2 linked regions of the Homo sapiens genome follow. The protein of the gene in region 1 purifies or fractionates together with the protein of each later gene. This does not show direct contact. Each region holds a gene or a part of one and is shown in the gene's direction. Other genes may lie near its edges.

Evidence for each region.
Region 2: the proteins of MAP3K1 (region 1) and AXIN1 purify together in Homo sapiens (affinity purification with western blotting; 5 studies listed by BioGRID and IntAct, with this or other methods). This does not show direct contact.

What each region holds. Positions count from the first base shown.
Region 1 is NC_000005.10:56,813,750-56,817,497, forward strand, and holds the start of MAP3K1 (mitogen-activated protein kinase kinase kinase 1), read left to right. Parts: upstream 1-1,799; 5' UTR 1,800-1,824; coding exon 1,825-2,306; intron 2,307-3,178; exon of another isoform or gene 3,179-3,367; intron 3,368-3,748. UniProt on the Homo sapiens protein: Component of a protein kinase signal transduction cascade. Activates the ERK and JNK kinase pathways by phosphorylation of MAP2K1 and MAP2K4. May phosphorylate the MAPK8/JNK1 kinase.
Region 2 is NC_000016.10:345,976-349,723, reverse strand, and holds part of AXIN1 (axin-1), read left to right. Parts: intron 1-2,617; coding exon of another isoform or gene 2,618-2,698; coding exon 2,699-3,576; intron 3,577-3,748. UniProt on the Homo sapiens protein: Component of the beta-catenin destruction complex required for regulating CTNNB1 levels through phosphorylation and ubiquitination, and modulating Wnt-signaling.

The sequences.
Region 1 (3,748 bases):
AAGGAAAGTTTATCCGTTTCAGTTTAGGATTTGGTGGGTGTGGCAACCCAGGAAGACCTGAGAAATAACCACTGTTTGGTTTGAATGATACATTTGACTGCCATTAAAATAGCATATAATTATAGCCTAAATGTAGACTTAATTTTTAACAGATTTATCTGAACTTTCAAAATTTGTACCGTTGGGTGTAACGATCTAAAACTATCTTATGGGAGATGTTACAGCAGTTTTCAAATCATTGAGCTAATATGAAATCTGGACTTTTTAAAACCCCTCTGATCTAACCTGGTTACGCAGTTAACATTGTATCTGGGAAAGGGGCTTTCATTTTACCTAGTCTCCAGAAGTCAATGGAATTATTCTGTAAATAGTTCAGGCTTTTGTCTAAATATGTGAAGACTGACAAGACTATCTCCGTGAGAATCCGCACCCCCCCACCCCAACCTCCCCCCTCCTTAATCATGTTTCACAAAGTAAATCTATAGACGTTCCTCCTGGGTTTTGGGAGATTCCCCATCCTAAACAAACCAGCTGGAGGAAAGGAAAGGAAGGAAGAAATAAACGCAACACAGAAGTTCTCCTCAGTTGACAAAAGGTCAAAAATCATTAACGTGTAAATGTTGCTTTTTCCATCCCAAAGCACCTTCTCACGTAGAGTCCAGGGACTAGGAGGACTCACAACGCAGCGATGGGCAGCCAGGCCCTGCAGGAGTGGGGACAGAGGGAACCCGGCCGGTGGCCCGACCCTGCAGGGAAGAAGGACGTGCGGCGAGAAGCATCGGATTCGGGGAGGGCCGGGACCTGGCCGAGGGTGACATTACCGAGCACTTCCTGGCACAGCGCTGGTCCCCTCCCCAAACGCGCTATATGTGGTTCTGTACGGGACTGCCTTTCCCAAAGACAGCCAAGGAAAAACTAAAGATCGACGGGGACACCCGCCTCCCTTCCTCGCCCCAACGGTTTCTCAGAGGCTGTGGGGACTTGGTGAGGGTAGGGGGTAGTTGTCCCAAATCAGCAGCTTCAGGATGTAAGGTATTACAGAAAACTTTGAAGTTTTGTTATCTGTAGCACAGGGACAGGGGTGGGACAATAGAGAAGGAATGTTTTCTTTTCAAAAGAAAACACAAACAAAACTTTATTTTTCTGGTCCGCGGCAGCCTGTCTGCTGAACGTTGACTTGCTTTCGCTTTGCAGCAGGCGACGGTCCCGGGCGCCACCTGCGCGTCGGTGGGAGGCTGGTCCACGCCCGGGTCCCCCGACGCCCACTGCAAAGGGCAGTGGGAATGACAGACTGTAAACCCTCTCGCCTGCGTCCCCTTCAAGCACCAGAAACCCAAGTTGGAACTAATTCTTTCTTTCGGAAGGTGCAACTCCCCTCCCGCGAGCTCCGCGGTGCCGGGCCGAGATTGCCGAGAGGAAGCGGCGCAGCGCTGCCGCCAAGGCTCCTCCTGTCGCCGGTGCGGCCGGGACTACCTGGCGGCGCGGCGCGTGCAGCGCGCAGAGTCCCGGGAGCCCACGCCTCCGCCTCCGCCCCCGCCCCCTCCGCCTCCCAGTCCACCTCGCCCGCCCGCCCTCTCGCCCGGCGGAGAGCACAGCCCACTCCCTCCCACCTGCGGCCGCCGGGCCGCCCTCCACCCACACCTCTGCCGCAGGCCGGACCCAGTGCGCCCGCCCGTCGGTCAGTCCAGGCCAGGCGCCCGGCGGGCCGCGCTCACGCAGTTGGCGCAGGAGGCCTTACGCTGGCGGCGCAGTGCCCGCCCCCTGCGCTCTCCCCGCCCCCTCCCTCCCTCGCAGGGGCCGAGCGAATGTAGCCCGCGAGAGAAAATGGCGGCGGCGGCGGGGAATCGCGCCTCGTCGTCGGGATTCCCGGGCGCCAGGGCTACGAGCCCTGAGGCAGGCGGCGGCGGAGGAGCCCTCAAGGCGAGCAGCGCGCCCGCGGCTGCCGCGGGACTGCTGCGGGAGGCGGGCAGCGGGGGCCGCGAGCGGGCGGACTGGCGGCGGCGGCAGCTGCGCAAAGTGCGGAGTGTGGAGCTGGACCAGCTGCCTGAGCAGCCGCTCTTCCTTGCCGCCTCACCGCCGGCCTCCTCGACTTCCCCGTCGCCGGAGCCCGCGGACGCAGCGGGGAGTGGGACCGGCTTCCAGCCTGTGGCGGTGCCGCCGCCCCACGGAGCCGCGAGCCGCGGCGGCGCCCACCTTACCGAGTCGGTGGCGGCGCCGGACAGCGGCGCCTCGAGTCCCGCAGCGGCCGAGCCCGGGGAGAAGCGGGCGCCCGCCGCCGAGCCGTCTCCTGCAGCGGCCCCCGCCGGGTGAGCAGCACGGCCGGGGTCGCGGCGGGGACTTGGAGAGCGGGCAGAGGGCAATGAATGAACCCCGGGCACCATGCACGGCGTCCCGGGGTTCAGCGCAGCGAGGCTACGCGCCGCTCGCCGGGACCTACGCCCCTGAGCACCCCCCGACCCCTTCGGAGTCGGGCGGCGCCCCGGACCCAGCCTGGGGGACCGGACGGGGACGTGCGGAAGAGTTTGTTATTGTTTGCAGACATGTGACAGGCGTGCGAGCCTCTCTGCGGGGAACCGTTGCGAAAAGGTGTAGGGGGCCACGGCTGGCTTTGTGGGACTCCTGGAATCGGGGCTCTCCGAGGAGCCCGGGGGCGGGGCACGGCCCTGCGGCGGCGCCCCCGGACGGGTGTCCCCGGGGCAAAGGCACTGGGGGGCGAGGCCCGAGCCTGAGGCGGGCGGTGGTCGGAAGAGGGGCGGGGTGGGTGAGAAGCCCGAGGTCGGGTGGGAGACTGAGAGGACCGAAGAGAAAGTAGCAGGTCCCAGCGGCCGTGACAGGCAGAGCCCCTCGGCCCGCCCGGGACTCGAGTCCCTAGGCAGATACCGCGGGCTGGGCCCGGACGCAGGCGGCGCGCCCCCAGCGCCGGCCGCAGGGCTCCAGGAGGACGGCTCGGTAACGCCTGTCAAAGCCGTGCGGCGGGAGGCTGCACACTCGCGGAGGCTTGCAGTCTTTTAGGAAGTGCGGTTTGTCTAATTGCAGCCCCCAAGGGGCTTTGAGTGTTCCTGGGAATGCGAACTGCACTGCTAAGTCACTTGAGTGACTTCTGTTTGGAGTTTGAATTTGGCCTTTGAAGTTTGCATTTGGCGGAGTGGTGTAAGAGCCAGGACCGGATGTGTCAGCCATTCAGTTTCAAAGCAGTGGTGACTGCTCCCCGCAGCCCCTCCGGCTTGGCCCGGGGACTGCGGCGCGGGTGCAGTGCTTCCTGCTCGGTGCCCTGGCGCGGGCCGCCCGCTGAATTCCAGGGGCCGCAGTGCGGTGGGCTTCGGCTCAGATGCGTCTTCTGGTGCATATGAAGTACAGTATGTGTAAGGTAATTTAGACCAGCGGTTTATTGGCCTCGCCCATTTTTGGCTACTGGAAATTTTTATGTTAAAGGAAATTCTTTTAAGTGTGACAGCTACATCCTTGTTTGTTTGTTTTTTAAAAACCTGATTAACGTATGCAAAGTACAAAGTCTTGATGGGTATTTTGAGTTGCTGGAAATGTTTTTGTGATAGTCCCTCGTGGCCCTGTAGAATTCCCTGACCTTTATTATGAGAAGAAAGCGTGTCATTTTGTGAGACGAATTTGACAGTAGGAGTCCTTGGTTTGGATTCATTATCTAAAGTGATCTGGCATTTTTTGTGCATTTGATTATTTGCTTAAAATCACGATCCATTTAGTATTTGGAAGTCCCCTTCCTCTCCCCAAG
Region 2 (3,748 bases), on another chromosome or scaffold:
CAGTGTTTGGCGTCTGTGACAAATGTCTTTTCTTTTTTACATCAGTGAATGACTTACTGGTGCCCGTTAGTTGCAGGACCTTGTGCTGGGTGCTGTGGGTCCCGCTACTACCAATAATTAACACAGAAGACTTAAGTCCCTTATGAGAGCATGATGGTGACTTGTGGTTAGCCTCCCTTCTGAGCACTGTCTGATTAATCACTTTCCACTCTCCGGTGACTTGGTTCTTCAAGCTAGTGAATGGTAGTACATCTATAGTGGTAAGGCTCAGGTGGTCAGGGTGCAGGCCTTCTTTCCTGTGATGGCGTCCCAGACAGATGACCGTGAGCTAGTGTGGAGGTGCCCACGCCCAGGGTGCTCCCTCCATGCTGATGTGGCTCACGGAGTGACTGCCGCTGAAGTGGTCTGTGAGCAGCAGGATGTCACAGCTCACTGGGCCTTGACCTTTAGAAGCTGTGTGTTCCTGCTGAGGCCAAGATGACATACTACCCAGCAGCGTTCACAAAAAGTCCTTAGCTGCTGAAATGTCATTGGGGGCACATAGTTGCAAACCATCCTCCATCTATGGGTGCTTCTTATTTATTTACTAATTTTATTTTATTTTATTTTATTTTATTTTTTTGAGACAGAGTCTCACTCTGTCGCCCAAGCTGGAGTGCAGTGGCCGGCGCGGTGTCGGCTCACTGCAAGCTCTGCCTCCCGGGTTCATGCCATTCTCCCACGTCAGTCTCCCGAGTAGCTGGGACTGCAGGTGCCCACCACCATGCCTGGCTAATTTTTTGTATTTTTAGTAGAGATGGGGTTTCACCGTGTTAGCCAGGATGGTCTCGATCTCTTGACCTCGTGATCCGCCCGCCTTGGCTTCCCAAAGTGCTGGGATTACAGGTGTGAGCCACTGTGCCCGGCCTATTTTTTTTTTAGAGACAGGATCTTGCTCTGTTGCCCAGGCTGGAGTGCAGTGGGGTGCGATTATAGCTCACTGCAGCCTTGAACTCCTGGGTCAAGTGATCCTCTTGCCTCAGTCTTCCAAGTAGCTGAGACTACAGGCATACGCTACCATACCCGGCTAATTAAGAACTGTTTTTTGGTAGAGATTGGGTCTCACTATGTTGCCCAGGTTAGTCTTGAACTCTTGGGCTCAAGGGATCCTCCAGCCTCAGCCTCCTGAGTAGCTGGGACTACAGGTGCGTGACACCACGCCTGGCTCTGTGGATCCTTCGTGCTTCCAGCCGTGAGCAGCTGTTGGCTGGTAAAGTGTGTGCAATGTGAGGAAGTTGGTGTGGGGGACAGATTCCACATAGACAAGGGACAGCAGTGTGGAGTGGTGGCTGGGGGATAGATCCCCCTTCAGTTGGTCCTGGGTTTTAGGGTTTTATTTGTTTGCTGTGACTTGTTCAGCACTCTAGGCTTTTGAACCCAACATGCTTCTCTAAAGCCCTCTCTCCAGCCCCTTTTAGCCAGGACCACTTACATCATGGCAGGCTGTTGTTTCAGTCACCTGCATGGCCGGGTTGACAGGCATAGCCAGAGCTCCTGGGCTCCTGTAGGACGTGGCAGGAAGGACCATAGACCATGGCAGGGGTTCTGTTGGAGCCCTTATCTACTCTCTTTTGCACACCCCTTGCAGGCTTGTAGCAGCAGCAGCAGTAGTAGCAGCAAATTCTATAGTTCCCTGATGTCTAAGAGGGTGGGTGGTTTGGTTTTCAGCTTAAGGAGTGAAGTCACATGAACTATAGCTTCCTTAGCTAAAAATTGTATTTGCATTTCCTTTTATTCTGTACCTTCTCTGTTCCTTGAAGTACCCATTTACTATTTGCTATCTGAATCCTCATCAGAGAGGCTTTTCAGAGTCAAGTGCAGCATTCTGACAGAGCATTTTAAGATTGTCTCCAGTGACGGTGTCCGAGCGCCTCTGTGGGCCTGGGTGGTGTCCTTGATCCCTCGGTCGATGGGGCTGAAGGTGACCCATGATTATCTCTCTTTGAGGCGTGTGTTGAGAGTCGGAGGAACACCCTGCAGTGTGTTCTCATGTGTCGGAAGGTGTACCACGCGTGACGTGATGCAGCAGGTAGAAAACAGTGGCCGTGGGCCTGGAGGACGTGGGGTTCAGAAGACGCCCACCACCTTCGGGGCTGTAGCGCACCTTCCTTTCTCTCTGAGTGTTGCTGGGGCTGGTGGAGCGATTGTCTCCATCTTACTTGTGAGGGTCCAGCCCTCACTCAGGTTTGTACACATAGTCAGGACTAGAGGCAGCTTTCCTTCCTCCGGTCTTCCTGCCTTCCCTGTCCCTCAGCTCTGCAGCTGAGGTGGGAGGTGCTCAAGCTGCCAGCCTCCGTGATGTTTGTGCAGTGAGACTTGTGGGGAGTGGCATTCCCATGTCCTGGGCATCCCTTCTTAGCATGAGAGGCATTCCTGTAGTTGTAAAAGTTTCCAGAAATTGCTTTAAAGTAGAACTATGCTTGTGGCCAAAATATATCTTGATTGAACATTTAAACTGAGTTTCTTGCTTTGAGTTTGAGCGGGAGGGCGTCATCGTGAGTCTTGTCTTGAGAAAACCTCTGGTCGTGTTTCATGGACCCACCTTTCCTAATCCTTGTCCTCTTAATGGTTTCAACAGGACAGATTGATTCACTTTGGAGCTGTAAGTACTGATGTATTAGGGTGCAGCGCTCATTGTTCCTTGACGCAGAGTCCCAAAATGAATATCCAAGAGCAGGGTTTCCCCTTGGACCTCGGAGCAAGTTTCACCGAAGATGCTCCCCGACCCCCAGTGCCTGGTGAGGAGGGAGAACTGGTGTCCACAGACCCGAGGCCCGCCAGCTACAGTTTCTGCTCCGGGAAAGGTGTTGGCATTAAAGGTGAGACTTCGACGGCCACTCCGAGGCGCTCGGATCTGGACCTGGGGTATGAGCCTGAGGGCAGTGCCTCCCCCACCCCACCATACTTGAAGTGGGCTGAGTCACTGCATTCCCTGCTGGATGACCAAGATGGGATAAGCCTGTTCAGGACTTTCCTGAAGCAGGAGGGCTGTGCCGACTTGCTGGACTTCTGGTTTGCCTGCACTGGCTTCAGGAAGCTGGAGCCCTGTGACTCGAACGAGGAGAAGAGGCTGAAGCTGGCGAGAGCCATCTACCGAAAGTACATTCTTGATAACAATGGCATCGTGTCCCGGCAGACCAAGCCAGCCACCAAGAGCTTCATAAAGGGCTGCATCATGAAGCAGCTGATCGATCCTGCCATGTTTGACCAGGCCCAGACCGAAATCCAGGCCACTATGGAGGAAAACACCTATCCCTCCTTCCTTAAGTCTGATATTTATTTGGAATATACGAGGACAGGCTCGGAGAGCCCCAAAGTCTGTAGTGACCAGAGCTCTGGGTCAGGGACAGGGAAGGGCATATCTGGATACCTGCCGACCTTAAATGAAGATGAGGAATGGAAGTGTGACCAGGACATGGATGAGGACGATGGCAGAGACGCTGCTCCCCCCGGAAGACTCCCTCAGAAGCTGCTCCTGGAGACAGCTGCCCCGAGGGTCTCCTCCAGTAGACGGTACAGCGAAGGCAGAGAGTTCAGGTGAGTCCGACGCCAGGCGTCCACTTTCTGTACTCACCTCCGAGAGCTGGAGAACAAGCCAGGGAAAGGTGCTGATGAGGCGGGCGTTAACCCACACCGGATGTCCTGCTGCCGCTGGGGTTGAATTTTGGTTCTGTTCTTATTTGTGATACTTTTGCATTTGTCATTACTT